Homo sapiens: one gene and its partners. The protein of the gene in region 3 purifies or fractionates together with the protein of the main gene of each other region. This does not show direct contact. Each region holds a gene or a part of one and is shown on either strand. Other genes may lie near its edges. The genes, in order: SLC20A2, TDRKH, SLC19A1, CNTN1, GPC4, DSG2 and SYPL1.

What was found.
Region 1: the proteins of SLC19A1 (region 3) and SLC20A2 fractionate together in Homo sapiens (co-fractionation; one large-scale study listed by BioGRID). This does not show direct contact.
Region 2: the proteins of SLC19A1 (region 3) and TDRKH purify together in Homo sapiens (affinity purification with mass spectrometry; one large-scale study listed by BioGRID and IntAct). This does not show direct contact.
Region 4: the proteins of SLC19A1 (region 3) and CNTN1 purify together in Homo sapiens (affinity purification with mass spectrometry; one large-scale study listed by BioGRID and IntAct). This does not show direct contact.
Region 5: the proteins of SLC19A1 (region 3) and GPC4 purify together in Homo sapiens (affinity purification with mass spectrometry; one large-scale study listed by BioGRID and IntAct). This does not show direct contact.
Region 6: the proteins of SLC19A1 (region 3) and DSG2 purify together in Homo sapiens (affinity purification with mass spectrometry; one large-scale study listed by BioGRID and IntAct). This does not show direct contact.
Region 7: the proteins of SLC19A1 (region 3) and SYPL1 purify together in Homo sapiens (affinity purification with mass spectrometry; one large-scale study listed by BioGRID and IntAct). This does not show direct contact.

What each region holds. Positions count from the first base shown.
Region 1 is NC_000008.11:42,497,507-42,502,531, forward strand, and holds the start of SLC20A2 (sodium-dependent phosphate transporter 2), read right to left. Parts: upstream 3,726-5,025; 5' UTR 3,525-3,725; intron 1-3,524. UniProt on the Homo sapiens protein: Sodium-phosphate symporter which preferentially transports the monovalent form of phosphate with a stoichiometry of two sodium ions per phosphate ion.
Region 2 is NC_000001.11:151,783,799-151,788,223, forward strand, and holds part of TDRKH (tudor and KH domain-containing protein), read right to left. Parts: intron 1-4,425. UniProt on the Homo sapiens protein: Participates in the primary piRNA biogenesis pathway and is required during spermatogenesis to repress transposable elements and prevent their mobilization, which is essential for the germline integrity.
Region 3 is NC_000021.9:45,514,636-45,518,748, reverse strand, and holds part of SLC19A1 (reduced folate transporter), read left to right. Parts: intron 1-2,608; coding exon 2,609-3,091; 3' UTR 3,092-3,596; coding exon of another isoform or gene 3,597-3,773; 3' UTR 3,774-4,113. UniProt on the Homo sapiens protein: Antiporter that mediates the import of reduced folates or a subset of cyclic dinucleotides, driven by the export of organic anions.
Region 4 is NC_000012.12:41,027,939-41,032,363, reverse strand, and holds part of CNTN1 (contactin-1 isoform 1 precursor), read right to left. Parts: coding exon 4,395-4,425; intron 3,302-4,394; coding exon 3,145-3,301; intron 1-3,144. UniProt on the Homo sapiens protein: Contactins mediate cell surface interactions during nervous system development.
Region 5 is NC_000023.11:133,320,931-133,325,355, reverse strand, and holds part of GPC4 (glypican-4 precursor), read left to right. Parts: intron 1-819; coding exon 820-1,211; intron 1,212-4,425. UniProt on the Homo sapiens protein: Cell surface proteoglycan that bears heparan sulfate. May be involved in the development of kidney tubules and of the central nervous system.
Region 6 is NC_000018.10:31,535,675-31,540,099, reverse strand, and holds part of DSG2 (desmoglein-2 preproprotein), read right to left. Parts: intron 3,899-4,425; coding exon 3,671-3,898; intron 1,350-3,670; coding exon 1,122-1,349; intron 1-1,121.
Region 7 is NC_000007.14:106,101,747-106,106,171, forward strand, and holds part of SYPL1 (synaptophysin-like protein 1), read right to left. Parts: intron 1-4,425.

The DNA of each region.
Region 1 (5,025 bases), on a different chromosome or scaffold from region 3:
CTCTGTTCCAGCCCAACCCTTGCTGGACCTGACCCTTTTATTCTAGATGGAAATAGATACCAGTGGGTCACCATTCTTTGCCACTGAGACACACATATACTTGAAGAACAATTCAAGAGTCTCCCGGTCATTTGTTTCCTCTTCCAGGCTAAATAATAGAAGTTCCCTACCCTCTTATCATAGGTATCATTTTCCAACCCTCAATTGGTTTTTTTTTTTTTTTTGAGGTTCTTTGTGGAGCCAAGTCTCTTTGTTGTGGAGCCATGAACTAGACCCAGAACCTTAGAGACTGGCTGAGGTTGGGCACGGGGGGAGGGACTCACAGACTCACAGAACCACGCAGGCCGCTCATGTTATTACTCCCCAGTACCCAAGCCTTCCTATCAGCCCTTCTTCTGATTCATGTGCTTCTAACTCCTTTACAAGCTGCAATAATGCTCAGTAGACCTTCATAATGCCTTTCCTCTGAGAAGCTGAAGGCATTTCCCTAACTAATATTACAGTTGACTCAATATCCTAAACCAGTGCAGGGTTAAGTAACTTGTTGAATTGCAAACCAGTTCAGGAAGGGAGAATCTGGAACTCCAGATTTCTATCTAAATATCATTTTATGGAGAAAGATGCTTTGATATTTATTGCACTTTATAACAAGTTTACCCCCTCCACATAATAATAATAGTTTTAGGTGCAAGTGAAACTGTGAAGCTTCTCCTCTTTGTAGGAGGATTGCAACAGAGGACTGAGAGTGGGGGGCAAGGCTTCTGGGGTCAGTCTTGTCACTTGTCCCCATCACTTCCCAGCTATGGAGGAGAAAGGGAAGGCACAGCCCAGGTGGCACAGCTGTCTGTCCTAATCGTCTTTGGCAAAAGCTCAGAGGAGCTGAATGCTGAAGTATCCTCAACCCACCCCACTCATCTTGTTTCCCTTTTCTTCATTTTCACATTTTTTTTTCTGCCAGTGTAGTTACTGAATGTCAGGGGGCCCAGTTTCTGTGTCCTGCCTTGTTGTAGCATGTGGGTTGGAACTATGCTTTCCTTGTGCACCGCATGTGCTGTGGGGTGCTTAATACATGCTAAATAATGACAGCAGTACCCCGTATGCCCGAGAAATCAGCCTTCCTCCTGAGGGCCATATCCCATTATGTTACACTTGTTTTTAAGACGGACGGAAGCTGAAGGCATCCCTCCTGCTCACTGCTCCTTCCACTTTAGATGAACAGCTGGAACTCACATAACACAGCCTCTTCCGACAAGATTTCCTTTAGAGAGAGAACATTCTAGGGATGTGATCACTGAGCATCCGGGCTCCAAGCCGAAAGGCAACCTGTTACATAGCGCAGTTCCCATTTAGCCATGCAGGCAAGAGACCCATTAAAACCTCATGTGAGGGAAGAGGTCCCAGAGAAAAGGTTCCTCTCTGCGTCCCTGAGAAACCCCTCAAAGCTTCTGAGCAGAAGGCTATCCCTCTAGGCAGAAAGTAACAGTGAAATAAATCTGCAACCGGCAGCGATTCTGTCAGAGCCTCTGGGTCTGTAACTATTTTAAGACGTGGAGGAGTAGGATGAGAGCACGGGCAGCTGGACAGAGTGGCTCCAACAGGACTGCAGGGGAGACGTGCGGTCACCTGCGGCGTGGGAACAGCAGGGCAAGGGCAGGCGGGCTCGGCTCCTGGACTCCTCCTGCGGCCACAAAGCTGCCCTGTTTCTCCGCACCTGGACCCCCAGTGTGTGACTCTGCATAGAGCTCATCATGATTTGTCGCCCAAGGTCATAACCAGTCACAGCCAGCATCATTTCACCAGGCACACGGGGTAGAAGCAGCGAAGAGAATCGCAGCACCGGCAAACACGAGGAATTCCGGCACTAACACTTATATAATGAAAACCTTCTCCGCTCTCACTCACCGCTGCCACTCTCTCACAGCACGTAAATCATTAAAACGAACACTCCTCAAGTGTTTATGCGCATTTTAGCAACTCATCATAAAGCACATGCTTCCTAGTAGTAGAAAAACCTACAGAAACGTCTGTGAAATTAAACAATGGATAAATTCGAATCAGCTTTTCTCTTTTGCAGGACTAAGAACTACAATAGGTCAAGTGAATACTGGTGTGAAAACTAATACCCAACTACAGTGTACCTTTAAAAATGCTCCACTGAGATTCTGATGGTGCCTTATTAACAATTAGAAGTAAGAAGTAATAGCAATAAGTCAGAATTTTTTGGATAAAAATATATATTATGAAGGATTACCGGAGCAAAACCCCTTTTACTGCTGAAGATGACATTAGAGGCTTCTGTTATCATTATAATTCATCTGGGCAGCAAATTTCTCTTCAGCTCAATAAAAACTAAGTATGAAGTAAGTTTCTTTCTAAAAATAGCCCAAGAACTCAGTACTACTTTCCTTTCTTACACTCTTTTCCTACTAAATGGAACACTGAAGTATTTCCTTTCATTGTTGACACTTTATGTCATTTGCATTTAAAATCAGACAATACATAATAACAAAGAAGTCTTTAACTAAATCTTTTCAAAATGGGAAAATGGCTTTCACAATACTAACTGTGGACCTGCCTCCTTCCTTGCTCTAGAGATGACAGGCATAGATAGCTGGTGAGCACCTATCCTATCGCCTAGGAGAACTGTTTTATTAATAACAATATTCCTAAAGCTGATACATTTACTTGCTAATTGATAAAGAAATTCCTGCCTGGTTCTCTGCTGTAAGCAAACTGTTTGGCTTGAGGTCAGTCCACATTGAAAACACACTTCTAAATAAGCAAGATGATTCAAATTTAATTTAAAATATTCAATATCAAAATCTTTTGTTTTCTTCAGTACAAATTTAAGTTGGTAATAATGTGTTAGATGAACTGCAGTTAAGGTTACAGAATCCCATGGCCTTTGGTTACTTTTGATAACTAACTCAGTCTAAAAGAGGATGCTTTAAATTATTCTCTAAAACCTTCTTCCTAAATTAATTTTTTAAAGTGCTTCTCTTTAGGCATATATGGGTTTATTTTTTAAGCACAAAATCCCCCTTAAAAGGATAAAAAACTGTCCATCTATACATTCAAGAAAATTACATTTGACACTCCATTATTTCTACAAAATAAACTTGTAGCACAGAGTATAACAGGAATTAACTTTCAACATTTTTTTCTCAAGAATTAGGTTACCATAGTAGAAAACAAAGCTCAATGACACAATACAATGTTTCTGTATTTACAGAAACCATATCCATTAATCAAATATTTTAACATAAAATAATAATCTACAGATTGCTTTTGCAAAAATAAGTAAGAATCGAAAACTTTTTCTTGGGCAAATTGAATAAGGCAGATTTATTGCAGTAGGAGACATTTAAAGAAAAACCTTTTGCCACCTCTCTTAGCTTTCTCTAACGTACCAACCTGAAAGCTTCCAGTTTTCCCAAGAGATAAACATTACTATGACGGTAACATTAGGAAGATTTAAGGAGAAAAGAACAAAGAGAAGTCTTAAAATTCCACCCAGTACTTACAAGTAGTTTCCAAGAAAACTGAGCCACAATTCTTCAGAAGACTGCTCTCCTGATCACAAACACAATCTGAAGTCTAAAATAGATATCCTACCACATTAGGCCGAGAAGTCACATTTCAGCTTGCTAACTTCTACTTTTACAACTCATAGAACTAACCCCGGCTAAAATTAACTGCAGCCAAGCAGCAGGCAGGAACACGCTGATTTGCATCATGTGTGCCGGGATTTATTCACTAGGACAACATCGGTGTCCTCTTAATGGGAAATGCGGCCAAGGGGCGTGCCCTGGTGAACAATACATAGCATCATGATTATGCTAATTACTGAATTCAGTCCAATAATACTAACTTCTTTTAAGTTGTTTTTGCAAGTACTGACAAAGAGAAGGAGTAAGCTTTTTCCCAACAGGCATTCACTTGATTTTTAAGCACATTCAAATCAGACCAAACTTTGGCAACAAGGTGGCAGTGCTGTGTGCTCTTCACAAGCAAAAGCAAAGCAAAAGGACATTCTGTCCGATTATTTAAACAGCGTGATTAGATGCAGCACTACGTGAAATTAAATAGACACAGAATATACATATCAGTAAGTCTATCCACCAGAATCCTGAAATAAAAGCTTTTTCTTTCTCTATAATGAACTGATTGCAGGGACTTGCTTTCTGGCTCTGCCTCCTCCTGCACCTCCCAAGGAGTCGCTATGAAGACACAGATTCAGTAATAAATCACAACTGAGAATAAACATCTCAAATATTTGCAAAGGCATTGTCCTTGGCAAGAAGCATTTTAAGGTGGATTTAACTCCTTGGCTAGAAAAATTGTCCTCTGTAGGTGACTGACCATCTACAAAGCATGTTGGAACTCAAGTTAACAGGTAAAGACCCCAAACATACAGCTGACACTTAAAAGAAAATCAGAACATGAAAAACTTTCTCTCGAAAATATAAGTACAACTTATAACAAAGACACAAAACCGCTTAGTATCTACTCAAGACGGTTTGGGACTAGTTTGCTTTAGACTAAGTTCTGATGACATATTTTGCTCTTATTGAACACTCTATGAAAGATATCAAAGCACTTTACAAACATCAATCAAATCTCCAAGCATCTTTGGGAGATGTCATTTTCCTCTTTTTTTTTTTTTCCCACAGACAGGTAAAAGACAGGGTAATTCCATTTCAACGACTTCAACCAACCCTGGATCACCCCATCTCCTCCTGAGACCTTTATAACATCTTCCGTATTAACCACTTACCTATAATCCTATAGACCTTTTCAGAGCCATTTGTTTTCCTCATTTTAAAATGTCATATGTTAGTTTGGACTTCAGGAGATTCACTCTACTTAACACCCAGATGCCAGGCCTGAACCCCAGGGGCTTAAAAAGCCCTCCTTGACTCTCTCTTGCAGACAGGTATCCTGCAACATGGATCCCTAAAACATGGCGATGCCCTCAGGAGGCACTGTCCATCTGCAGCCTGCTGCCCAAAGCACAAACCGGTT
Region 2 (4,425 bases), on a different chromosome or scaffold from region 3:
ATCCACATATGTGGGTTCAATTACTACCTATATGCTAATGACATCAACAATGCTGCATCTGGCCTGATTCAGAAGCTCAAATCTTATTTAGACCACAGCAGTGGACTTCTTACAGGCTTTTGTGCTGAGTTTCTCTTTGACACTGTATCTTCATTTTGCTGCCAAGCAAATTTTAACATGTTCCTCATTATATTTCCTTATTCCACATAGTTTCTCAGCCTCCCTCTCCACTCAAACGTCTCGTGCTGCCTCCTCCAACCTCTCTCAACTGAGGTCCTTGCTATTTCACTAAAAAAGGAGAGCATTCAGAGAAAATATCCACAAGCTTCTACACATTTGCCCACCTTCCTCCACCTGTGCCTAAATGCTTGCTGTTCTCTCCTGTGACCACAGATGAACTGTCTCTGCTCCTAGCACTGAAGTCTTTCATAAAAGCACTGCTCCACAAGTTCTCCTTGCTTCTACTACATGATTAACGTTTTCTTTCCTCTCTACTGGATAGTCCCATCAGCAGACAAACATTCTCTGTTCTTAAAGAAAACCCTTCCTGGATTTCACTTCAACTACTTCCCATTTCTTTTCTTCCTTTTAAAGGAAAACTCGAGTGTCAATATATCTGTCCTCAAGTTCTCTTCTTAAATCCACTCTAACTGCTCACATCAGAGTCACCAATGATTTCATACTGCTCAATCCAAAGATCGATTCTCAGTTTTCATCTTACCAGATGTCCCCACAGTATTTGGCACAGCTGATGATTCCCTCTTCTCTGAAACACATTCTCCATAGCACACCCTCCTGGTTTTCCTCTTTCCTTTCTGGCTATTCCATCAGTCTCCCAGTTGCTGGTTTCTTCACATTTTTCTAACCTCTAAACACTGGAGTGCCTCAGGGATCTGTCCTTCGCCCTCTTCTCTGTTCTACCTCACTTTCTTGGTGATCTCAAGTCTCATTCACGGACTGGCTTTAACTCCTATCTAGATGCTGATAACTTCCAAATTAATAGATCCATTTAGGACCTTTCTCAACTGCCTACATGGATCTCCATTTGATGTCTAATAGACATCTCAAACTTAACACTGAGCTCCTGATTCACCCCCTTCCCATAATCTTTGCCATCTCAGCAAATGGCAATTCGTTTTTTTTTTTTTTTTTGAGACAAGGTCTTTCTCTGTTGCCAGGCTGGAGTGCAGTGGCGCAACCATGGCTCACTGCAGCCACAACCTCTGGACTCAAGCAATCCTCCCATCTCTCAGCCTCCCAGTAGCTGAGACTACAGGTGCATGCCACCATGCCCGGCTAATTTTTGTATTTTTTGTAGAGAAAGGGTTTCACCATGTTGCCCAGGCTGGTCTCAAACTCCTGGGCTCAAGTGATCCACCAACCTCAGCCTTCCAAAGTGCTGAGATTACAGGTGTGAACCACTGTGCTCTGCCTCGACTGCATTCTCTTACTCCCTTAGTCATCCTCTCTCTCACACTGCACACCTAGCCTGTCAACAAATCTTATTTGCTCTACCTTCAAATCATCCAGAATCTGACCACTTTTTCTCTTTGCAGTTCTATGACCCTGCTCTAAAACACCATTATCTTTTCCCTAGATTACTGCATTGCTTAATTACGTTCCTGCCTTTGCCATTGTCCATTCAGTTTATTCTCAACACAAGAGCTGGAGTAAGTACTATGTGCTAGATGCTACTGTGGCACTAAAGACACAAAAATGAAGAGATAATGTGTTGAGTAGCTACTATGCCAGGCAAATTACATAATTTTATTTTACAGTCATATAACCCTGTAAGGCAGGAAATATTAATCCCATAGAAGAGTACCCATGCTTGAAGAGGTTATCTAATCTCTAACCCAGAGTCTGGGTTATTCTTGCTTGTAAAAAACCTTGTAAAGTGATTTTAGAAATCCTTCCCCACTCTTCCTTTTACCTAAGCTCTTAGGGTAACAGCACCTGTATTTTTATTCTTTATTTTGATCAACATATTCAATTCAAAATTAATACTGGTAGAAAGTACTGTAGGTGGTTAAAAAAACACTGAAGACTAAAAAACTAAAGATAGGTGATAAAAAACTGAAAACTAAATATCTGTATTTCCAGATATTACAATCTAGTAGAACAAAGCAAGCTGGCTTTAAATAAGATTTGCTTAAAAATGAGTAAATGTAACTTATGCCATAATTTACCTCCAGGTACAAAAATTCAACCCAAATAATTATAATAAACAAAAATGTATTTCACCCTGGGGGGAAAAACTGGCTATATCCTGGTAAGGCTAAAAACATACTCATTAATACAAAACCTACTGTGGAATAAAACTTAGGCTTTCAGGGAAAGCACAGTCAATCTGGAAGAGTAAAGAGAGAAAGGAGAACATCTAGCACCGAAATCTCACTGAGGAGCAGATATAGTCAGGTAAGGGAGGCTGGAGGTAGATTTCTTACAACAGTCATCCTCTCTTATCCTCGAGGAATATGTTCCAAGAACCCCAGTGGATGCCTTGGAGTACTGAAAACTATAGGTTTTTTCAATCTGATAACCAAGATGGCTACTAAGTGACTAAGAGGCGGGTAGCATATACAGCATGGATATGCTGGACAAAGGCAGGATTCTCGTCTGGGCCAGGATGGAGATTTCACCATGCTAGTCAGAATGGTGCACAATTTAAAACTTAAGAATTGTTTACGTATGGAACTTCCCATTTAATCTTTTTGGACCAGGATTGACTATGGGTAAGTGAAAGCAAAACCACGGAGAAGGGTAGACTACTACACTGTCATACAGATGACCAGAATTTGCATCTGGCCTCACAGCTTTACTGATCAACAGAACTGAATAAAGTTCTTCAGAGAACTACCAGAAGTTTGCCAAATCTATTTTTTCTATATCCTGGTTTTAAACAAATTTAATCCACCTTCTTGCCCGGACTCAAAAGCCTGAGCAAATAATAAAACGGCCTTTTACTACCCGAGGTGGGGGATGGGTACCTCTTTTCAAGGGTGTCGTCTATTTTGGGTCATTAGTTACTCAGTGAATTCAGTATATCATTTTTAGAGACTATCAATCTGAGGGAATACTGTTCTCTCCCGACCTTTTTAGAATGTAGGACAGAAAGGGTTGAGGTTAATGTAGGCTGTTTGTTTTCATTTATGAGGTTCTTTTCCCAAGTCATTGGATAAGCTTCTCTTTTTTTAAATACACTGCAAATAAAAGCTTTCACCATCCTGAAAGTTTGGATGGTATTATATAAGCATCGTTGTATATACCAAAGGAAAGGAAACAAGTTGTTTCATAAAGGAGATTTTTGACTTAAATAATTCTTGAATACACACCTCCCAAACTGCTACTTTCCTACATTGAGATGGTTTATTCTTGGTGTCTAGAAAGAATTTGACTTCTTTTGTCCCCTGATTACTTTAGATATATATATTTTTTGAGACGGAGTCTCACTCTGTTGCCCAGGCTGGAGTGCAGTGGCACGATCTCAGCTCACTGCAACCTCTGCCTCCCGGGTTCAAGCGATTCTTCTGCCTCAGCCTAATGAGTAGCTGGGACGACAGGCACCTGCCACCATGCCCAGCTAATTTATGTATTTTTAGTAGAGACAGGGTTTCACCATATTGGCCAGGATGGTCTCGAACTGCTGACCTCATGATCCGCCCACCTCGGCCTCCCAAAGTGCTGGGATTACAGGCGTGAGCCACTGCGCCTGGCTTAGGTATTTTCTTATATGACCACTAAAGTGCAAAGCTTGTTTCCATTATTAATGCATCTTGGTTAAATAGTGCTAGCTCTTTCTTGTGTGCTGAGCACGTTGGGGACAGAAGGAGGAAGAAGAATTTCTACTTGGAAATATTCATAGTCTAGGAAACATAAACACCAAAACAGGCTGGGCACAGTGGCTCATGCCTGTTAATCCCAGCACTTTGAGAGGCTAAGGTAGGAGGACTGCTTGAGACCAAGTATTCAAGACTAGCCTGGGCAACATAGTGAGACTCTGTTTCTACAAAAAAAAAAAAAAAAAAAAAAAAAAAAAAATTAGCTAGGCGTGGTGTTGCACACCTGTAGTTCCAGCTACTCAGGAGGCCGAGGTGGGAGATGGCTTGAGCCCAGGAGGTGGAAGCTGCAGTAAACTGATGACACCACTGCACTCCACCCTGGGCAACAGAGCGAGAATTTGTCTCAAGGGGTTTAAAAAAAAAAAGTATAGGGCAAGATGTGTGTAGGTTATATACAAATAATATGCATCTTATACAAGGGACATGAGCATCTATGGATTTGGGTTCTGCAGGGTTCCTGGAACCAATCCCCTGCAAATAACGAAGGGAGGGACAACTGTATAAATTCTTGGTCAATGCGACAGTTGAAAGTAGCTAGAACCTTAAGGTTTATTTCTTAGATGGTGTATAGTTGAAAATCATC
Region 3 (4,113 bases):
AGGATGCTGGGTAGACAGTGTTCTTTTTTTTTAGCCTGTGAGAAATGTGGTGCCCCTTCCTCATAGCTTTCAGGATTTTTGATGAGCAATTACTGTTATTCAAATTGCTTGCCCGTAAAGTGTCATTTTTCTCTGGCCACTTCCAAGATTTTTTCTTTATTTTTATCGTTAGCTTATAGAAGTTTGAATATGGTATGTGTTGGTGTGATTTTGTTTGGGTTTTCTATTTGGGGTTTGCTCAGCTTCATGAATCTGCAGTGTACATCTCACCAAATTTAGGAAGTTTTCAACCATTATTTCCTGAAATGCTTTTTGAACCCCACTCCTTTTCTCCTCTTTTTCTAGATCCCCCATGTCACAAATGTTAGATCATGTTGTATAGTCCCACAAGGAATGAGGCTTTGTTCATTTTTTTTCAGTCCATTTTTTCTTTTGTTCAGGTTGGATAATTTCTATTGTTCTACCTCCAGTTCATTGATCATTTCTCTGCCTCTTCTATTTTGTTGTTGAGATGATTCATTAAGTTTTTAAATTCTGATTATTGTACATTTCAGTTCTAAATTTTTTTTATTTCTCCTATTTCTTTGCTGAGACTGTGTTTTTTCATTTGTTTCCAGCATGTTTGTTATTGTTCACTGAAGCATTTTTATGGTGGCTGCTTTAAGATCTTTCTTGGCGAATTCTACTGTCTGTGTTGTCTTAGTGTTGGTGTCTATTAATTGTTTTTCAGTTTGAGATCTTTGTGGTTTAGTGTGCCAAGGGATTTTTTAGTGAGATGCAAGCATTTTGGGTATGATGTAATTTCAGCATCCTGTTGTGGCTGACGCAACTCCTGCAGGTCAAGCGGGGTGTGCACCTCGCTACAGGCAGGTGGGGTGGAAGTCCAGGCTCTCACTCAGCCTTTGTGACACCTGAGGGAGGGTGGGTGGCTGGGTGGGGGCTCCTTCTTGTTGCCAGGCAAGGATGGGAGTCCAGCTCCCCTCGTGGCCCCCTTGATGCCCCTGGGGTTGGGACATTCTCATTATTGCTGGGTAGGTGAAAGTCTGGACTCCCGCTTGACCTCCTCTGACACCCCCCAGCATGGAGGGGGACAGGACAGGCACGCTCTTACTACTGGGTGAGGATAAGAGGCCAGGCTCCCCATATGGTCTCTGCTGACTCCGTGAGGCTTCGGGGGTGACTAGGCTCCCCACATGGTCTCCACTGACTCCATGAGGCTTTGGGGGTGACATCTTGGGCTTCCCTGTGGTCTCTGCTGACTCCTTGGGGGTGAGGGTGGGTGTCTTTACCAACCAGTGGGAGTGAAAGCTCTAGTGCCCACTGGTGTTGTCTGACACCACCCCGCAGGGGACTCGGGGGTCCTTGTTACAGGCTGGCGAGGGTGGGGGGTCCTTGCTGACATGGTGGGTGGAGCCGAGGTCTGGTGTTTGCGGGGAGCAGGGCGATTCCTGTCGAAAGGTCTTTCCTCATGTTGGGCTGACCCTTCCCTGGGTCTTAGGCCAGAGAGAGCTGCTTCCATGGGCTCTTTTTTCTGCATCTGTTGTCTTTTCCAGCCTGCTGCCTTCTTCAGTTTCAAAATATCTGAGGTGAAAAGAAAAGCCCCCAGGGAGCTCTGCGTGGCACAGTCTGTCCTTGCGTGGCACAGCTCCCCAGACCCCGAGGGCCCGGCCAGTCTGCCCTTGTGTGGCACAGCTCCCCAGACCCCGAGGGCCTGGTCAGTCTGTCCTCCTCGCTCCTGCTTTCAGAGTCTTCCCAGGTGTTTATCTCAGTGTCTTGGGTAGGAGAAGAGCAGGGAGAAGCGTGTCAGCCCCATCTTCCTCAGTTTGCTTTAAAAACAGCTGTCCTGGAAGGGTGCCGGTGCCGATGGGCTGCAGGGATTCTGGCCTGCGGATGTGGAGCTGGGGCCTCAGGGGTCTTGGGCGGGACTCACTGGGCTCTGCCCACGGATGTCCTGAGGGCACTGCAGCCTCCTGAACCCTCTGCACCTCCGGGAATGATCAGGTCCCTCCCTGGTGTCCCAGGGACATCTCCAGTCCCTCCTGCCCCTGGCAGCTGCGAGAATCAGGAGAGATGTGGCCAACGCTGGTGCTGCTCCTTCTGGTCATCGTAGCACAGCTTCCGCTGCCGAGATGGAGACGGGCTCCATGTGCAGGCTGCTGGGGGTTGCTCTGGGCGCGAAGCCCTGGGGATCAGCTCCTGGTCACCTGCTGTGGCTCTCCTCACCCTGCTCTGCCAGGCGGGACGTTCTGGCCCTCATGGGCACCCTTCCGCTGTCTCAGCACCATGGGGGGGCAGCAAGCACCACCAAGCAGGGGACTCGGGAGCAGACACCGCAGGCCACGCAGAAGCAGGCCACCTGCCAGGTTCCGAGGGGTTCTTGGGAAATGGTGGGAACCCCCCTTCAGGCCTGTGCCAGGTGGTGGAGGTCGGGGGGGCTGTGGTGAGCACTGTGGCACCTGCTCCTGGGGCTGGCCTCTGACCGCTGTGCAGTGTTCAGGGTCAGCCTCTGAGCTGGAGGAGGGTGAGCCTGGGAGCAGGCGTCGGGGTGTAGGGTGCCAGTGTCCCAGCCAGGCCCTCCCCACCCGCCTCACCCGGCCTCTCTTTCCAGTTCCAGTTATACTCCGTGTACTTCCTGATCCTGTCCATCATCTACTTCTTGGGGGCCATGCTGGATGGCCTGCGGCACTGCCAGCGGGGCCACCACCCGCGGCAGCCCCCGGCCCAGGGCCTGAGGAGTGCCGCGGAGGAGAAGGCAGCACAGGCACTGAGCGTGCAGGACAAGGGCCTCGGAGGCCTGCAGCCAGCCCAGAGCCCGCCGCTTTCCCCAGAAGACAGCCTGGGGGCTGTGGGGCCAGCCTCCCTGGAGCAGAGACAGAGCGACCCATACCTGGCCCAGGCCCCGGCCCCGCAGGCAGCTGAATTCCTGAGCCCAGTGACAACCCCTTCCCCCTGCACTCTGTGCTCCGCCCAAGCCTCAGGCCCTGAGGCTGCAGATGAGACTTGTCCCCAGCTGGCTGTCCATCCTCCTGGTGTCAGCAAGCTGGGTTTGCAGTGTCTTCCAAGCGACGGTGTTCAGAATGTGAACCAGTGACTCTCGGGCGCCCCTGTGGTAACTTTGCAGGCGGCCCTCAGTGCATCCCCACGACCCCTGCCTCGAGGGCCGCCTGCCTTAGCAATGGGGGCCTCCGCTTATCCTGCTAGCAGGCCCCCTAGGATTCCCCCTGCCCTGTGCCGCACTCTGGCGGTGGCCACAGCGTGCTGGCGACACTCAGGGCAGCTGCCTGGCCATGCTGTCCCTGCACTGTGCCCCGCGGGCTTTGTTGCTGGAAGAGGTGGGTGGTGGGCTTCTGCGTCCACCAGGCCTCACTGGCTCATGCCCCTTGGGGGGCTTGAGACAAATCCTTTCTGCCCCCCAGGGCTAGTGAAGTGGCCTCTTGGATACCAGCTCAGGGGACACTGGCCCCACAGGAGTTGTGAGCCCTCTAGGGCAGGGTGGGAGCCGGGACCCTCAGGTGTAGCTGAGCTGTGACATTGCTGGTCATCCTTGGTGCTCTTGCTTTTTTGAAAGATGCTTTTTTTTTTTTTAACTGACGTAGAATGAAGAACTGCATGTGGCTTCTCTGTCTCTGTGGAAAAGCCATCTCAGGTTGGCGGCAGACACATTGTCATCAGAGGGGAGCAGCGGCTCTGGTCCTCGGAGCTGGTTCCTCTCTCCCACCCTAAGGGCAGCCCTCCATGGTCCTGTCTGTCCTTCTGAAGTGTGTCCATCCTGACCTGCGGGTCCTCAGCTGCTCCCACACTTGTGCCAGCCCGGAGGGGACTGGTCCCGGTCACCGCGGACGTGCTGGCCTTGGTATGTGCCAGGCTTGCCTGGGCTGGGCAGCCTTGGGGGGGCTGCCTTTGTGGTGGGCGCTGGGGAAGTACGTCCCAGCGGCCTCAGGGTCTAAGGAGCGCTAGTGCCTTGCCCACAGGTGCGGGACCATCTGATGTGATGTGAATACTCTTCCCACATACATTAAACACACTTAAGTGAGTGTGCGCAGGGCTTCTGATTCAGGGCCGGCCTGGCCTGGGGGTTGAGGGTCAGCAGTCAGTGAGGAGGCCAGGAGAGGC
Region 4 (4,425 bases), on a different chromosome or scaffold from region 3:
CGGAGTCTCGCTCTGTCGCCCAGGCTGGAGTGCAGTGGCGCGATTTCGGCTCACTGCAAGCACCACCTCCAGGGTTCACACCATTCCCTGTGAGCCATCTTTCTAACAGGAGAGTTATATGATTTGATTTGTGTTTTAAAAAACCCCCCTGTCTATTGCATAGATAATAGGCCTTGAGAGGCCAACACTGGGAGGCAAGAGGATCATTAGAATTGCAGCAGGGCCAGGCAGAGATGTGGAAATATGTAAATCTTAGCACATTTTAAATATGTGAACTGTGATTGCTGTATTGTAGGCATTTAATGTCTATTTGTTGAATGAATGAATGAACAAACAGCATAATGCTTATAAACATTAAGATCTAGTAGTGTGTTATAATCCTGGCTACGTATTTAGGGCATGAAAACCAAAAGAAAGTACTAAGAGTCTTTTAAATTTAGAAAAAAACCTGTAATTTCTGTTTGTATTTACACATTTGCCTCATTAAAATAATTTAAATGATTTGAAAATCCAAACTTAAAAACAAGAATATTCTAGAATGGTGTTATTCACCAAGCATCTGACATTTCATAACGTTAATTCTACAGTTTATTTGTACAGTTATGGTCAGAATAAGAGATAAATAATAGAAATTCTAAAATCAATAAGAATGTTGTCCATTAGTTGGCAAAAAGAGAAAAATATGAAAAATATCCTAAGTTTGGGATTAAAAAAATACTCTTCTATACATGAGCTATATATACTGAAATATCAAATTACAGCTGTGGTATGCTGAAATCAACCGATACAACCCCTGAAATCCAATTGTTAAATTTTTAGGAAATGTATGAGCAATGTGTTAAAAATGTAATTATTAAAATAGAATTTATGTAAACTTAAATTTAAAAGCTTAAAACAAATGTAGTAAATACTCAAAACCCATCATTTCTTAATATTTTACTATATTATAATGTTGTCAAATGTTTTTTAGGTTCTTATTATACCTGTATGGTGGCAATTACATATAATGATGTGCTACTGGGTAGCTCTTCACAGCTCCATATTAAGTGACATCACTTGGAAAGCTTGAAATCACACATAATGAGAATATTTACACCACAGAAACAGGCAAACATTATAAACAGGGCTTTCCCCTATCCCTAGTGATTCTACTGTTTAACATTTACCAGTGCCATTAGTGATAGGTAAACTGATGTTACCATCACTGCTACATCATCTCTTGCTGAAAACCTCTAGTCTAAATCCCAGAAGCTAGGTTCTCCTTTCGGTGAGGAATGATGAACCAAGGGTGAGTACAGAGAGCAAAAGCTCGCTGTGGCTGGCTTCTACACAAGAGAAAGAAGGCCCAGGGTTCAAGAGCAATTTATTTAGTTATTTGTGCTTTACCTTCCTTGAAATAATGGCCATATTTCCCTCTGATTTCCTTTTGTGAAACTGCCCACTAAGTGTAAAACTATTGAAGATGTTGACAAAGTTCTGAATATAGAAAATGTTTCAAAAATAAGAAAATTCTATTTTCCCCTGTCAAATTAGCAATGACTAAAAAGACAATAATATTAGAGTGGTACAGTGAGAAAAGCACTTATACTCAATGATAATAGGAATAGAAATTAGTAAGTGTTTTTGAAGAAATTTAGCAACCTAAAACACTTTGTCTTAAATTTAACCAGAAGAAAGATTAATTTATGAAAATGGACTCTAAAAGTATTATTTATGATAGAAAAAAACTTTAATGAGTTTGCATATTTGTTTGAAAGAATATCATTTATAATTTTTAAATAATTTACAAAAATGGAAGCTGAAACATGAAATTATATATGTATACAGAGTGACTATAAGTAAATTCAACTAAGCATTAACAGTAGCTATTTTAGGGTATTTGGAACATGATTATTTTCTTTTCCTTTCACATCTCTGTAATTTCTCTATTTTCTTAAAAGACAAAATTGCTGATGATTAAACTAAAAAAAATCAAAGTTCTATTTTGATTTGTAAAGGATGTATATATGTATTGTGGCAAACTTCACAAAAACATGGCATACAATTGAAGCCAGCATTTATTAAATACCATTAAATACTCTGGCATTGTGGTAAAGGATTTTTTGTTGGTTTAATATATAGCATATTTATTTCTTTATATCAAAATCACCAAATTTTCAATTTTCTTTTTTTTTAGTTTTCTTAAAATTTAACTTTTATTTTAAGTTCAGGGGTATATGTGCAGATTTGTTATACAGGTAAACTTGTGTCATGGGGTTTGTTGTACAGATTAACCAAATTTTCTTATAAATTATTTATTATCATCTTTGTTCTAGGATCTTCTGGTAATGTCAAAGCCTCTCATACATTTCTCAAATTAACATCTATTGAAATTCAGTATAATTAAACTATATCATGCATATAGGTTAAGAAAAATATGTCAAAAATTAAATAACAGATTGCCAGAAATAAAAAAAAAGAAATGACTGCCTCAAATATATGTATTTCCAAATCAAACAAAGGTGTGAGAAATAGAGTTTGTAGAAAAGGAATAGATAAGATAGAGAAAGAGAAAAGACAAAGGGGCTATAATTTAGTGTTTTTCTCTTTTACTACTATATCAATATCTATAGTCCAAGTGAAAGAGTTATAAGAGTATTAAAAATAGCCTAGTGTATTTCCTTTTGATAGAAGTTTGGTTATTATTAAATAATAGCCTAGTATTATATAGTATTCAATAAATTATGCCATTTTAATTGTGCTTTTTATTTGAAAATATTTAACTGACAAAGATTAAATATATTCAAGGTGAACAACATGAAGATTTGATATATGTATACATTGTATAATGATTACCACAATCAAATAAACTAATATGTTCCATACTGTATATTGGATCCCAAAAACTCGTTCGTCTTATGTCTGAAAGATTTCAACTGTGCTTTGACATCCAGATAATAATCAAGAAGTATGTGGTATGTCACAGACTTACTTTTGTGACTCATAAGAGGAGAAATACCAAGTTTCAGGGAATCCTTGATATGTCCAATCTACTTAGGAAAATATGGACACTGGTGTATCAGGCTTATCCCTACCCTTGGGAATCCACAGGGTCTAGAAACTCACAAGTACTTAGTTGAAATGTGTCTTAAATGACTCACTTACCTGAAATTTTGACTTGAGACACCACTCCATCTCCTCCATCACTGTGCGCGCGAACCTCCACAACGTATTCTCCATCTCTGGGGATTGGGACTTCTATGGAGTGTTTGTGAGTTGAATACAGCTTGCCATCATGCTGGCCATCAGGTCTGTAGAGTACCTTATAAAGTACAGAAATGTAAATATGCAGTAAAGTCATAATAATGAGCCAATGCTCTAACACTAAAACCAGAATAAAAATGCTTATACTTTGATTAACAAAAAGTAATAAATTTAAAACAAGAGGAAAAACTAAATTTAAAACTAGATGAAAAAAATCATGTTAGTTTCAATTCACAATAGTTGATTTTTGCAAGTTTGTAGGATTATCCAAGGAGATGTGACTTAAGCATCTGAATTTTATTTTTTGAGATGACCCAAAATAAAAATATAGAAAGAATGAGTCTTTTTAAGAAAAAAGTCCAAAATGAGAACTTTTAAAATATATTGAAATGGTCTGAAAATTGTCTCTCAATTTTTATTTTTACCATTTTCCATAAAATTTGGTATCCAGTGAAAAATGTGATAGTGTGTGATATAAAGAATATATTTAAAATAAGCTTTTCTCCTTTTTATTCATTTATAAACAGTAACTCAGTTTATCAAGGAGTTTTCTGGGTGCTGGGCAACCCTATCATAATCATTGCCAAACAAAAATAGTTTCGTTCTCTCTCCTCCTTAAGCTCTGATTATTCTATTTTATCTTTAAAGTATTCTACTTATCTTACACTTTTGACATAACATTTTGCTGAAATTCACTGAAGATAATGTTTTCCATTTCAAAATGTATCATGGCACTACGTTATCTGATTCTGCTCTACAACTATTAAATAGAATAAGAAAGTTGAATGGGGCCAGCCGTGGTGGCTCATGCCTGTAATCCCAGCACTTTGGGAAGTTGAGGTAGGTGGATAATTTGGGGTCAGGAGTTCGAGACCACCCTGGCCAAGACGGTGAAACCCTGTCTCTACTAAAAATACAAAAATTAGCCGGGTGTGGGTGTGGGCACCTGTAATCCCAGCTACTTGGGAGGCTGAGGCAGGAGAATCACTTGAACCCAGGAAGTGGAGGCTGCAATGAGCCAAGATTGTACCACTGCACTCCGGTCTGGGTGACAGAGCAAAATTCCATCTCAAAAAAAGAAAAGAAACCCATCTTGGGTTTCACTGAAATAGCAAGAATTGCAAACATTAATCATCACTATTTGTATATACCTTATATCCCGTCACTGTAGATTCATTTGAT
Region 5 (4,425 bases), on a different chromosome or scaffold from region 3:
ATAAATATGCTATATTTATTATTAAGTCCATTATGCATGTGCTCTCTCTCTCTCTGTCTCTCTCTCTCACACACACACACTCACACACACACTATCAGAAGGAACATTGAAAAGAGTCTCATGATGTTATTGTATAAATCCTTTAGAAACCCAGGATCAAGCTGGATACTCCCAATTTGTACTACTGTCACAGAGAAACACCCAGGAACTTATTTTCAGAAAACTTATGTGCTTGCTTGTAGGGGTGTTTGATTATGTTTTTTGGCCTCAACCATTTTCCAGGCAGCTATAGTGCATGATCATATAGATAAGTGAAAAGGAGAAATGAAAAAAAAATTCAGGCCCAAGTAAAATAACGACTTTTGAAAACACCTGTCCTGCTCTTAGGTTACAATTAGAAGGCATGGTTAACTTTGGCTTAGATTCTTAAGTAAAAAGTTGAGGGAAATCTCATGTTTTAGACTTCATGTGCACATTTTTTCCAGTTTTTCTTTATTCACCTATGACAGAGAGAAAGTGAGAGAGAGAATGAGAGCATGTGTGTATTGTACTGACTCCTGAGAAGCTGTTGGTTTAAATTTTCATTTTTTTCCTCTCTCAGACACCTATGTAAGTGACTTTGTGACACAGCTTTCCTTTCATTGGCAAATGATCTGAGATGCCACATTCCCCAAAAGAAATTCACCCTATATACAAACACGTTTTCCAATTTAATTGTGTTTTTTTTCCAGTTTTCAAATTTACTGGAAAAGCAGTTATTTAAACACTGAAAACTCTCGTTTTTCCTTTTTTTTTTTTTTTTTTTGGTGTTGGTTTCAGAATTCTTCAAAGAACTACTTGAAAATGCAGAGAAATCCCTGAATGATATGTTTGTGAAGACATATGGCCATTTATACATGCAAAATTCTGAGCTATTTAAAGATCTCTTCGTAGAGTTGAAACGTTACTACGTGGTGGGAAATGTGAACCTGGAAGAAATGCTAAATGACTTCTGGGCTCGCCTCCTGGAGCGGATGTTCCGCCTGGTGAACTCCCAGTACCACTTTACAGATGAGTATCTGGAATGTGTGAGCAAGTATACGGAGCAGCTGAAGCCCTTCGGAGATGTCCCTCGCAAATTGAAGCTCCAGGTTACTCGTGCTTTTGTAGCAGCCCGTACTTTCGCTCAAGGCTTAGCGGTTGCGGGAGATGTCGTGAGCAAGGTCTCCGTGGTAAGTACTCCTTGTCTTCTCTGTTTTGTTTTTGTTTTGTTTTCTTTCATGTTAAAAGAATGTTTGGGAAAGGTAGAAAAATAAATCACCAAAATTCTGTTGGTTCAATGGCAGCCTTTTCTTCCTCTCTTACCTCTTCTCTCCCACACACTGTCCTTACACGTGTACATTTTAGAGTTACTAAACAATACTGTGATCAGAATCTTCACCTATCATTATTATTGTGGGGTTTTTTTGTAGCTATTCTTAGAAGGGGGAATATATGTTTACTCAGGAATCTTAATTTTTAAAGTAGGTTAATACTGCCATACCCATTTTAGCTCTTATTCTACTTCCTTTCTGCACAAACAAACATACACACACAGGCTCCACATTTGGTTGTTTTGTGTGACTGTCAGCCTACTAGTCATAGTCTAGGAAAGCATTTAATCTCTGTGAGCATATGTTTCCTTGTTAGAAAGTGTACTCAGAGCTCTTTGGAAGACAGGTTTCTACGACAATTAGTGTGGACTACACTGCTGTTGACTCATGACTCTGCAGAATTACCAATACAGAAAGTGAAATTGTAGTATGTGATCAGGAGCTGATGAAATGAACCTGTTTCCTCATTGGGAAATTCAGCGAATTGGACTAGATAGACTGTGTTCTTTTTTTTTGGGAGGTGGGGACAGGGTCTTGTTCTGCTGCCCAGGCCAGAGTGCAGTGGCAGGATCTCGGCTCACTTGCAACCTCCACCTCCGGGGCTCAAGCAATTCTCCTGCCTCAGCCTCCCTAGTAGCTGGGATTGCAGGCGTGTGCCAGCACGCCTGGCTAATTTTTTGTATTTGTAGTAGAGACGGGGTTTCACCATGTTGTTCAGGCTGGTCTCGAACTCCTGGCCTCAAATGATTCACCTGTCTTGGCCTCTCAGAGTGCTGGGATTACAGGTGAGAGCCACCATGCCTGGCCGATAGACTCTGTTCTTGAGCAGGATATTGCTTTAGGGGCCTCATTGAGCAGAAGCAACAGAGAAGGAAGTCTTTTGTGGGTGAGACCGTGCAACTGTGCCTTTATCTCCCAGTTCCACCAGAGAATCTTTGCTTTCTTTGACTTCACACAGCAGGGATCTGAGCAAGATTTCAAGGGGAAAGGGGTTCCACTGCTCCTTCACTGCCACTCCCCTCCCCCAAATGAAATCTGAAAACTTCTTGAAGACCCCACCACCTCTACCTTTCCATGAGTCAATACCAGGGAAGAAACATAAATATACTGGGGCAAAGTGATCTTTGCAAGGCTGATCTTAGTGCTGTCAACTTTAGGCCCTCAAAGGGAAAGCCAAATTGTAGGCCATTGCTAAAAAGCCTGGATGCACAACAACAGCAGATTCTGCTGAGGCCATTTGGTTGTTTTGAGGACTGGAAGAATGGACAGCATAAAAACTGGACAGCACTACAAACATGAAAATAGACACCTGATTGCCTCTCACAGTTTATCTACAGTTAGGGTGACCATATAATTTTTTATCCAAACAGGACACTTACTGTCTAAATCGGGAGGTGCTTATTAACAAATTATTCACAGACAACAGGTGTCACTTTTTTTTTTTTTGATAGAGTCTCACTCTGTCGCCCAGGCTTGAGTGCAGTGGCGAGATCTCCGCTCACTGCAACCTCCACTTCCCAGGCTCAGACGACAACAGGTGTCACTAATTTTTTTTTTTTTTTTTTGGAATCTCGCTCTGTCACCCAGGCTTGAGTGCAGTGGCGAGATCTCTGCTCACCGCAACCTCCACCTCCCAGGCTCAGACGATTCTCCTGCCTCAGCCTCCCTAGTAGCTGGGATTACAGGCATGTGCCACCACACTCAGCTAATTTTTGTATTTTTAGTAGAGATGGGGTTTCACCATGTTGGCCAGGCTGGTCTTGAACTCCTGACCTCAGGTGATCTGACTGCCTCTGCCTCCCAAAGTGCTGGGATTACAGGCATGAGCCACCGTGCTGGCCAGGTGTCACTAATTGTTAGTAAGCAACCAGGACTGTCGTGGACTGGCCAGGATACACGGGTCACTCTAGTTGGAGAGAAAACTTATATTCACCAGAGTGAGGATAAAGATTCTAAAGAATGGTTTATTATGAAAAATAGGTGCTCATGGGATTTTTCATATTAGAATTGGGTGATAATAAGGATTAATTGATTGATTGCATTCATTATGTTGTTTGTTCTCTCTCTCATCTCCAGGCCATAAACTGTCAGGAAACAATTCTTTCTAGTATGTTTTTGTTCACTCCTTCTTTGATATTTTCATCGTAAATTGCAAATATTTATTGGGGCATATGAGGGTGGAGTTGAGGGTAAGTGGGGAGATGATTGTTATAATTAAAGGAATAATATCTGATTCTTGAACTTCTGCCAACCCCAGCAACCATTATTAATCTTGGACATACTTTTGTCAGAGTCCCTAAAACAGTGCACAGTGAATCAGATCAAAGTTATTTGCATTGTGGTACACCCAGCACATTTGCCCTCCTTCAACAATTCCTCATGTTCATCCTCCACTGAAAGGGCAGAAAGACACTGCTGTGTGATTTGGACATCTGTGCATGCATGTGCATGTGCGTGTACACTTGTGCCAAAGAGAAAGAGAGTCAAGAGCCCTTTGCTAGTTTGAAAAGTACTTTCTTTATGTTAACCCTCTCCCCTTCCTTTGAGTTTCAGTGTTGATTCTTGGAGAAAAAGGGCCAGACAGCAGACTCAAGCCTGCCTTGGTGTTAGCCTCACTTTGCAAGGTTGGAGCTATTTTAGAGAACTGAACCTACAAACATGGATGGGGAGGGTAGCCAAACTGAGAAGTTTAGAGACAATTGATTGCAGGTTAGAGGATTGAAGGCTAGAAAAGGCTTGCCTTTGTTCTGCGTCTCCCTACCTCCCAGGTTACGGGGAAGTAAGCAGTTGTGCCTTCCCTGTGTTGCATTCTTCTGGACGTCGTTCTCAGAATTAACCATGGGAAACCAAGAAGCTTGACTTTGATATTTAAGATTCAGACACCCTTACTTATGCAACAAAGGTATGTGACCCAATGTGAAATAGTCACAATCACTTTTTCTTTCTCCTTTCTTTTTTAAAAGAGGCAGGATCTTGCTCTTTCACCCAGGCTGGAGCGCAGTGGCACAATCATAGCTCACTGCAGCCTTGATCTCCTGGGCTCCAGCAATCCTCCTGCCTCAGCCTCCCGAGT
Region 6 (4,425 bases), on a different chromosome or scaffold from region 3:
AATGAAATAATTATACAACTCACCATAATGTAGAATCAGTGGGAGCCCTGAACTTATTTTTCTGCAACTAGATGGTCCCATCTGGGGGTGATGGGAGACAGTGACAGGTCATCAGGCATTAGATTCTCATAAGGAGCACGCAACCTGGATCTCTTGGCATGAGTAGTTCACGATAGAGTTTGAGCTCCTATAAGAATCGAATGCCAGCACTGGTCTAACAGGAGGTAGAGCTCAGGTGGTAACACGAGTGATGGGGAGTGGCTGTAAATACAGATGAAGCTTCACTCACTCTTCCACCACTCACCTCCTGCTGTGCGGCCTGGTTCCTAACAGGCCATGGACAGGTGCTGGTCTGTAGCCTGGGGGTTGGGGACCCCTTGTCTAACAGACCTCTCCTCTGTCACTGCACTAGCCTAGGCTGCCTTGGAGGCGGCCCTCTGTCCATATTCAGTGGTCAAGTAGAGTGATATTTCATGTGACCTCAGGATGCAGTCCCTTGTTCTTTTATAAAAGGAAACCCGAGGTCTTTGGAGCGTGGGTAGGGCAGGCAGGACTGGTTGAGAACATCTTACGGTCAGGAAGGACAGGAAGTGCTCAGAGGGTCTGCCTACTTTTGGTGCTGACGAAGAAACAAGGCAAGCGGGGAATATCAGGGAGGCGGAGCTCTGATAAGTTGAATGTACAAAGCAGGATTGATTGGAATAAACTGGGTTTGTAAAAAACCTTGTGCCCATAACCCAAAGTCATGCAACACATCTTTTTTGAGCGCTTACTACATGCAAGGCTCTGTTCCACACACTGGGAATACAGCAGTGAAGAGAACAGACAGCATGCTGCCCTCACAGAGCTCATCAAAATGGGAATACCAGTGAAGTTTATGCCAATAGTTCCTAAGTTACTGAAACCAGAAAAGGATATACATTTATAAAACAAAATTCTGAAGAGTCTTATATTATGCTTTGGTGATTTGCCAATCATCAGTTGTTTCCCTATTCACCCTCAAAGTGCTCTAGTGTGGTTAAAGAATAACTGTGAAGAAATCAATGACTACCATAGTAACACATCTCCAGGAGTGCACTCAGATTCCCAAAAGCACAACAGAGTGGCTTTTAAAGACTTACATAGCAGGAGCAGAAAGGCCAAAATCATGAGCGCAATTGCTGCGGGTCCCAGGCCCACATAGGAGTCATGCTGTGCTTCCCTGCAGCCGCTGCCATGCAGACACTCACAAACTGTGAGTGTAAGGACCTGCTTTTCAGGACAACTAAAACCCTGATTGTCTGAAATCAGGAACTGAATTTCACTTCTCCCAAGCTTTTTCTCACTTTGTTGCAGCAGCACACTGGTACCTACAAGGTTGGGAGGCAGAAGGAAATAAAAACGAACGATTACCAAGGATGAGGCAACATTAAATTCCACAAATGTTCTTTCATTGCTGATTGTATTTAACTCCAATTAGGTACTTTGTTCTTCCTTCACTTATTGAAGTGTGCTCATTAAAATTTGTCTATAGGCCCTGAATATGCAGTTTAAATAGCAAAGGTTCAGACCTGGACACCTACTTTCATGATGATTAGCTGTAACCAATGTGTGTGGGTCTAGGAAAGCTAGGAACTGTTCTATACACTGGGAATACAGTGACAAACAAGTGGTGAGTTAACATTTCTACTGAATGACCTTTATTTTACCATTTCTTTAAAAAAAAACTTCATTAAGGCAATTTTTCAAACATAGTAATAAAGAGAAGAGCATAACCCCCATGGTACCCATCCTCAGCGTTAATCATTTTCAATGATGGGCTGATCTTGTTTTCTCTAGTCCCTTCTTTTTTTGTTCTCAACACTATATACATTCAAAATGGAAAAAAAATTCAAACCTACAGAAAAGTTGAAAGAATATTTTAGTGAATATTAACAAACCCTTACTAACTGTTTACATTTTGCAACAATGCTTTCTTTGCCCTCTATATACCCACTTTTTCTTTTTTTTAAAGTTTCTTAACTATTTCAAGGTAAGTTACAGATAGCACGACATTCTTCAGCATGCACCTTCTAAGATCAAGGAACATTAGCACTCTTACACTTCTTCTTCTTCTTCTTATTTTTTGAAATGGAGTCTCGTTCTGTTGCCCAGGCTGGAGTGCTGTGCTGCCATCTTGGCTCACTGCAACCTCTGCCTCCCAGGTTCACCTGCCTCAGCCTCCTGAGTAGCTGGGATTACAGGTGCCCACCACCATGCCCAGCTAATTTTTGTATTTATAGTAGAGATGGAGTTTCACCATGTTGGCCAGGCTGGTCTCAAACTCCTGACCTCAAGTGATCCACCCGCCTCACCCTCCCAAAGTGCTAGGATTAAGGCATGAGCTACCATGCCCGGCTTCAACTTGTTATTGATAATATTCTGTAATATACAACTCAGTGTATTTGTAAGTTAAATTTATTAGAATTTTAGAGTATAAGGATCATAGGGAGTTTTTTTTTTGAGACAGAGTCTTGCTCTGTCACCCAGGCTGGAGTGCAGTGGCACAATCTCGGCTCACTGCAAGCTCTGCCTTCTGGGTTCATGCCATTCTCCTGCCTCAGCCTCCCGAGTAGCTGGGACTACAGGTGCCTGCCACCACGCCCGGCTAATTTTTTGTATTTTTAGTAGAGACGGGGTTTCACCGTGTTAGCCAGGATGGTCTCGATCTCCTGACCTCATGATCCGCCTGCCTTGGCCTCCCAAAGTGCTGGGATTACAGGCGTGAGCCACCGCACCTGGCTGGGAGGTTTTGTTAATTCAGATCACTGAAATATATAAGGAAACTAAATATATTAAATCTGTAAATACAGTTTGAAATATTGATGGTGTTTAATTTGTTAATTGGACTAAACATTATTCAAACCCTCTTAAAATGATTTCAAACATTTGCTAGACTTAACACAATAAAGCTGTAAATTAAAAAAAAAACTGACTATTGTCTTTGAAATTTTACTGAAATGAACCCTAGTTGTTTAAAACAAAATAGTTTTCTGGATAGACTTTTCTGCATTCAGAACCACCCTGAAGGACATCTGAAAACTCACATCAACACATCATATGGTCCATGTGTCTAGATGTCCTGGATGTGGACATATGGACATGTCCACTGACATGGGGAAGGGGGGAATCAGATAACTCCCCTGTTATGTTGTTTCTATCATGTTCTAGGTTTGAGCTTTACTTACCCCCAGTTAAACCAAGGTATCCTCAGCTTTAATCAGGGAATAATGTTGAAGGAAGGATTAAATATGGTAATACATAGGGTGGGCTAGCAGAATGCCTAGCACATAGCAAGTGCTCAATAAATGTTGTTTTAAATGGAATTACTGTTACTACAAGATTTTTAGAAGGCAAACTACTACGATTGTGGTGCTGACAAAGGCTTGGTACTCCTCACCTTACCAGACAAAACTACTTCAAGGGCTATTTAGGGAATACCCAGCTACCTTCAAGACATTTTAGATTATTTTTCTTCTCTCCATAAGCATATAAAAGATACTATATGTCAGTAGGTTCAGGACCTCATTTCATAAACTCCTTTAAAAAACTATATTGGAAATATAATTTATGAGAAGAAATACAACTTACAAATATTTTAGATATCATGCTTAATATTTAGATTTCTATGTAGTCCAGTGATTTTGCTTACTTTCTTGGCGTGCTATTTTCCATTTTTCTGCCATGCCAGGTGGTTTGTCAATGACGGAGAAACTGAAAGGGCCACTGTTTGGGTGTCCATCCAGGTCCTCTGCAGTAACATTCACATACTCTGCATCGTGACAGATTGTCTGCACAGGCTCTATCAGTGTGGGACAGTTGTCGTTGATGTCTTCAACATTGATAAGGACTGTGCCAGTGATGGTTTTTCTAGGATAATCTTAAAAATAAGAGAGAAAAAGTATGTACATTCTGTTCCTATTGCTGACAACAGACATAGTTTGAATTCCCTTGCCAATTTGGAGTGGAGAAGGTACTAACCACTTAGGACATTTTCTATCCTAGATATGTTTCAAATTTGGACCAAGTAATATCTTTTAATCCACTTACCAAGTAGAAATGTGAGATTTATCTACTGGAGAAATTAGGTGCTTATTTCATCTTACTAAAAAATTTTTTTAGACATCTATTTTTAAATTTTATCTACCCCTCAATTTTTTTTTGAAGATGGTGTCTTGCTTTTTTGTCCAGGCTGGTCTCAAACTCCTGGGCTCAAGTGTTCCAACCATCTCAGTTGCCTGAGTAGCTGGGACTACAGACACAAGCAACTGTGCTGGGGTGAGATTAGGTTTTTGTTTTTGTTTTTTTTTTTTTGAGTTGGAGTCTCCCTTTGTCTGGCGCGATCTCCGCTCCTCTACCTCCTGGGTTCAAGCAATTCTCCTGCCTCAGTCTCTTGAGTAGCTGGGA
Region 7 (4,425 bases), on a different chromosome or scaffold from region 3:
TGAGTCCTGAGCATATACCCACGTTTAAATTAAAAAAAAAAAAAAAGAAAAGAAATGAGATACACAAATTGAACCAATGGAGCAGAATAAAAAGGCCAGGAATAGACTAGTGTGTATAAGACAAATTGTATCTAACAGAGTTGATTTGTAGATCACGGAGGAAAGGAATGTGGTGGTTTTAAAGATATGCCCACAAACTCTTTGATACAACTCCCATCAAGAGATGGAGCCTGATTTCCCTTCCCTTGAGTGTCAACTAAATGTAGTGACTTGCTTCTACAGAATAGAATATGGTACTGTAGAAGAAATGGGATGTCTTTTCTGAGACTCAGTTATAAAAAGATTACAACTTTTTTTTTTTTTTGAGACACAGTCTCGCTCTGTCACCCAGGCTGGAGTGCAATGGTGCAATCTTGGCTCACTGCAACCTCCACCTCCCAGATTCAAGGAATTCTCCTTCCTCAGCCTCCTGAGTAGCAGGGGTAATTACAGGTGCCTGCCACCATGCCCGGCTAATTTTTGTATTTTCGGTAGAGACGGGGTTTCACCATGTTGGTAAGGCCAGTCTCGAGCTCCTGACCTCCGGTGATCCACCCGCCTTGGCCTCCCAAAGTGCTGGGATTACAGGCTTGAACCACAACGCCCGGCCAAAGATTGCAACTTCTGTCTTCCTTTCTCACTCTCTCGAACTTTCTCATTCTCCGGGGGAAGCCAGTGGCCATGTTGGGAGGATACTCAGGCAACTTTTATAAACTCACATGGTGTGGAATTGAGGACTGCCAGTAACCACATGACTGAGCTTGGAAGGGGATCCTCTGAGGTTTGTCAACAGTCATGAGAATAAGCTGGAGGCCTTGAGATAACAGCAACCCCAGCCAACAGCTTGACTGCAACCTTATGGGAGACCCTATGCCCAAACCACATAGCTAAGCTGCTCCCAGATTCCTGACCCACAGAAGAATGGGTGAGGTTTATTATCTCACTTAATAAAAGTCAACAGACCTTTGTTTTAAACTGCTAAGCTCGGCGTAATTTGTTATACAGCAATAGATAACTAATACAAGGAAGAGCTGTTCAGTAAATGGTCCAGATGAGCTGCACACAAAAGTAAAAAGTCTTTAAAAAATGTGAAGACAATATAAAAGAAAACCTGTGACCACATGAAAAGGGAGAATTTAAGATTTTTTTTTGTAAAAAAGAACCATAAAAGATTGTTAAATTCAACTACAGAAAAAAAATCTTAATCAAGTCAGCTGTTGAATGTAAAACAAGCTACCAATTAGATGAACATATTTATAATAAACATAATGTCACAAAGGATTTACTAGTATATAGATCTAAGAGAAACCCTTGCTCACACGTACTAAGAGACATATAAGAATGTTCATGAAAAATGGGGAGGGGAAAAGCAACAGGGAAATGGATAAAATACCATAGTATATTCTTACACTGGGAAGTTATACGGCAAAAAAGATATAAGAATTACAACTGCCTACATCAACATAGATGAATCATAGAAATCCAATGCTGAGTTAAAACAAAAACAAAATAAAAACCATGTTGCATATGACTACCTAGACTATAAAACCATTTTTTAAAAAGCTCTGTTTACCTGCCTACATTACACCTGCCACTATTTTTGTTCAGGCCCTCACCATTTTTCATTGGGACTAACCCAGCAGACTCTTTCTCACATTTCCAATTTCATTCCAATTGATACTCATCTTCTATAATGTGGGCACTATAGCTGCAGTACCCAGTAATGCTACTTGTGAGTCTTGAACACTTTACATGTCACTAATCTAAATTGATATATACTCCAACTGCAAAATACACACTAGATTTTGAAGATTTACTATGAAAAAGATGTGAAATACTTCATTAATTTTTATATTGACGACTTGTTCAAACAATAATCTGGATAGATTGGGTTAAGTAAAATATATTGTTAAAATTAATTTCACCTGTTTCCTCTTATTTTAGTGTGGTTAATAGAACACTGAAAATTACTATGTGGTTTGCATTTTTGCTTCCCATTGTATTTTTTTGTACTGGACAGAGCTAGTTTAGAATGATGCCAAACTGATCTGAAATAAAAATCTGATCATGTCCTTCCCATTTAAAGGAATTTCCTCAATTGTTTTTCAACCTAAATTAAACAAAAAATGCTCCAACTTCTTAATTTGGCATAAAAGGCATGGCTGATCGATCCTCAACTTTATCTTTCTAGATAGATTTATCTGCAGTCTATTCACTGCCAGGTACTGTATGATTCTGTCACATTATACTGCTTACTGTTCCTGAAACATACCATGTATTTATGTCTTAAATGTATATGCTTCTTCTTCTGGGAATGCCCTGTCTCTGATTAGCTCATCTTTTAAGGCCCTACCCAATTCCCTGTGGTAGAACTCATGATTCTTCTCTTGAGCTATCATAGACATTAACTCTATTATATATGAACTCTACTATAGGCATTTTTCTTGTGTAACTTGCTTTCTAAAAAATAAAATGGGGCCGGGTGCAGTGGCTTATGCCTGTAATTCCAACACTTTGGGAGGCCGTGGCAGGAGGATTGTTTGAGCCCAGAAGTTCAATACCAGCTTGGGCAACACAGTGAGACCCTGTCTTAAAAATAAAATAAAATAAAAAAATTAAATGGAAAAATGAATTTCCTAATATAACAAGTAGCAAATAAATGGCATACTGCACTACAGCTTGTTGCTTTCAAGACTATCACTTCTACTGCTCCTTTGCCAGACTGTCATGTCTTTGCACCTGGTTTTGTTTAGGATTTTCAGTGACTAGCAGAAAACCTGGCACATAGCAGATGCTCACTAAATAACTACTTAATTAAGGAAAAAATAATTTCCAATAACTTATAAATAAAACCATATTTTGAATCTTACATAATTATTATTTTAAAGCTTTTTGTTATAAGGATAGATAAATATCATGACAGCAATTCTGGTCTTTATCTTATAGAAAGAAGGGACAAAAGCACATATTTTATATTAAACAAAGTACAAAATTATGAGGGCAAAATATCCAACTATCTCACTTCTCCCTATATTCTACTGCTATTTTGATCTAGACTGGAAGTTATATACTGGCAGCCTGTTGGTAAAACCCGGCCTGCAAATATATTTGTGTGGCCTTTCCAGTATTACAAAAAAATGTGAATTTGTTGTCATTGTTTTAATATCAGGGTATTACACATAAAAATTTGGATTTCCTGCTTTTCCTGAGTGTGTATGGGAAAGCTGAAGAATGGCAACATCAGACCTACATTCTCATAAAGCAACAATCAGAGAGAACTGAGTGACAGATGTCACTTATGGCAGAGTATGTGCTTTCCAGGTTATCCGCTTCTCCATTGTCTTAACAGCCCTCAGGATGTGTGTTAGTTGCCAGTAAGTAATCAATGACATACTATTCTTTTTCTTCCAAACATCTTGCTTCACTCATTTACTTTAGAGGGTGGTTCCTATGACCATTTCAGTTTCCAACCCTAGTCTAAAATGAAGGAGTACTGGTGTTCTGATTTATATTTTCTGGCCACTTTTGAAACTTATTTTCCCATATACTCCTACCCCATGAAGAATGACTGAAACTACTGACATGGAATTCTATCTGCACAGTGACTAGTAAGAATCCAGGGGCGGGGTGACAGCAAGCTTCTGTTTAGTCAGAAAAGTTACATGTTCACATACAGCCCCAAGTATCCAGAGAAACAGTCCCACTTACTTCTCTGCCCACCAGACCCATACTAGATGACCACCATGGCAGATCTTATTCAGAGAATTGTAACCTCAGGGTGAATAGTACAGCCTGGTTTTCCAGAGCACTAGTCTCCAAAGTAGACTGGAGTACCAGAAGAAAATATGTAAACTTCTATTTAGATCTACTTTCAGACTTAAATAAGGAATTGAAGCTTTATTGCAATTAATATACCACTGAAACCCATGCTGGGCATGCACATCAGAAGGTCACATGTCAGTACAGCATGCTGGGTATCCTGAAGGTAAGGGGAATCTCATACATGGAAGGACAGACAGTGATAACCTCATCTATTCTTTCACTTTTAGTGTTCATGCATTACAATGTGAGTGGGCCTGGATTTATGGAATAATTTGTCTAGTTTTAACCAAATCAACCTTCACAAAATTGACCCATGGCTTTAAAATGTCTTCAAAGAAATAGATTGGTAACACACACACTCATGTATAAAAGAGAAAATGGAAGCATTCATACTACTCTATGATTACAATCAACAGCCATATTACAAGGTAAAAACAGACTACTTAATCAGATCACAAGACGGTGGCACAACAATAAAAAATTATCAGAATAGTATCTGAAGCAAGGATTTAAAAATATAAACAAAATTTGCACTGAGTATATAATATACCTTAAGATACTAAC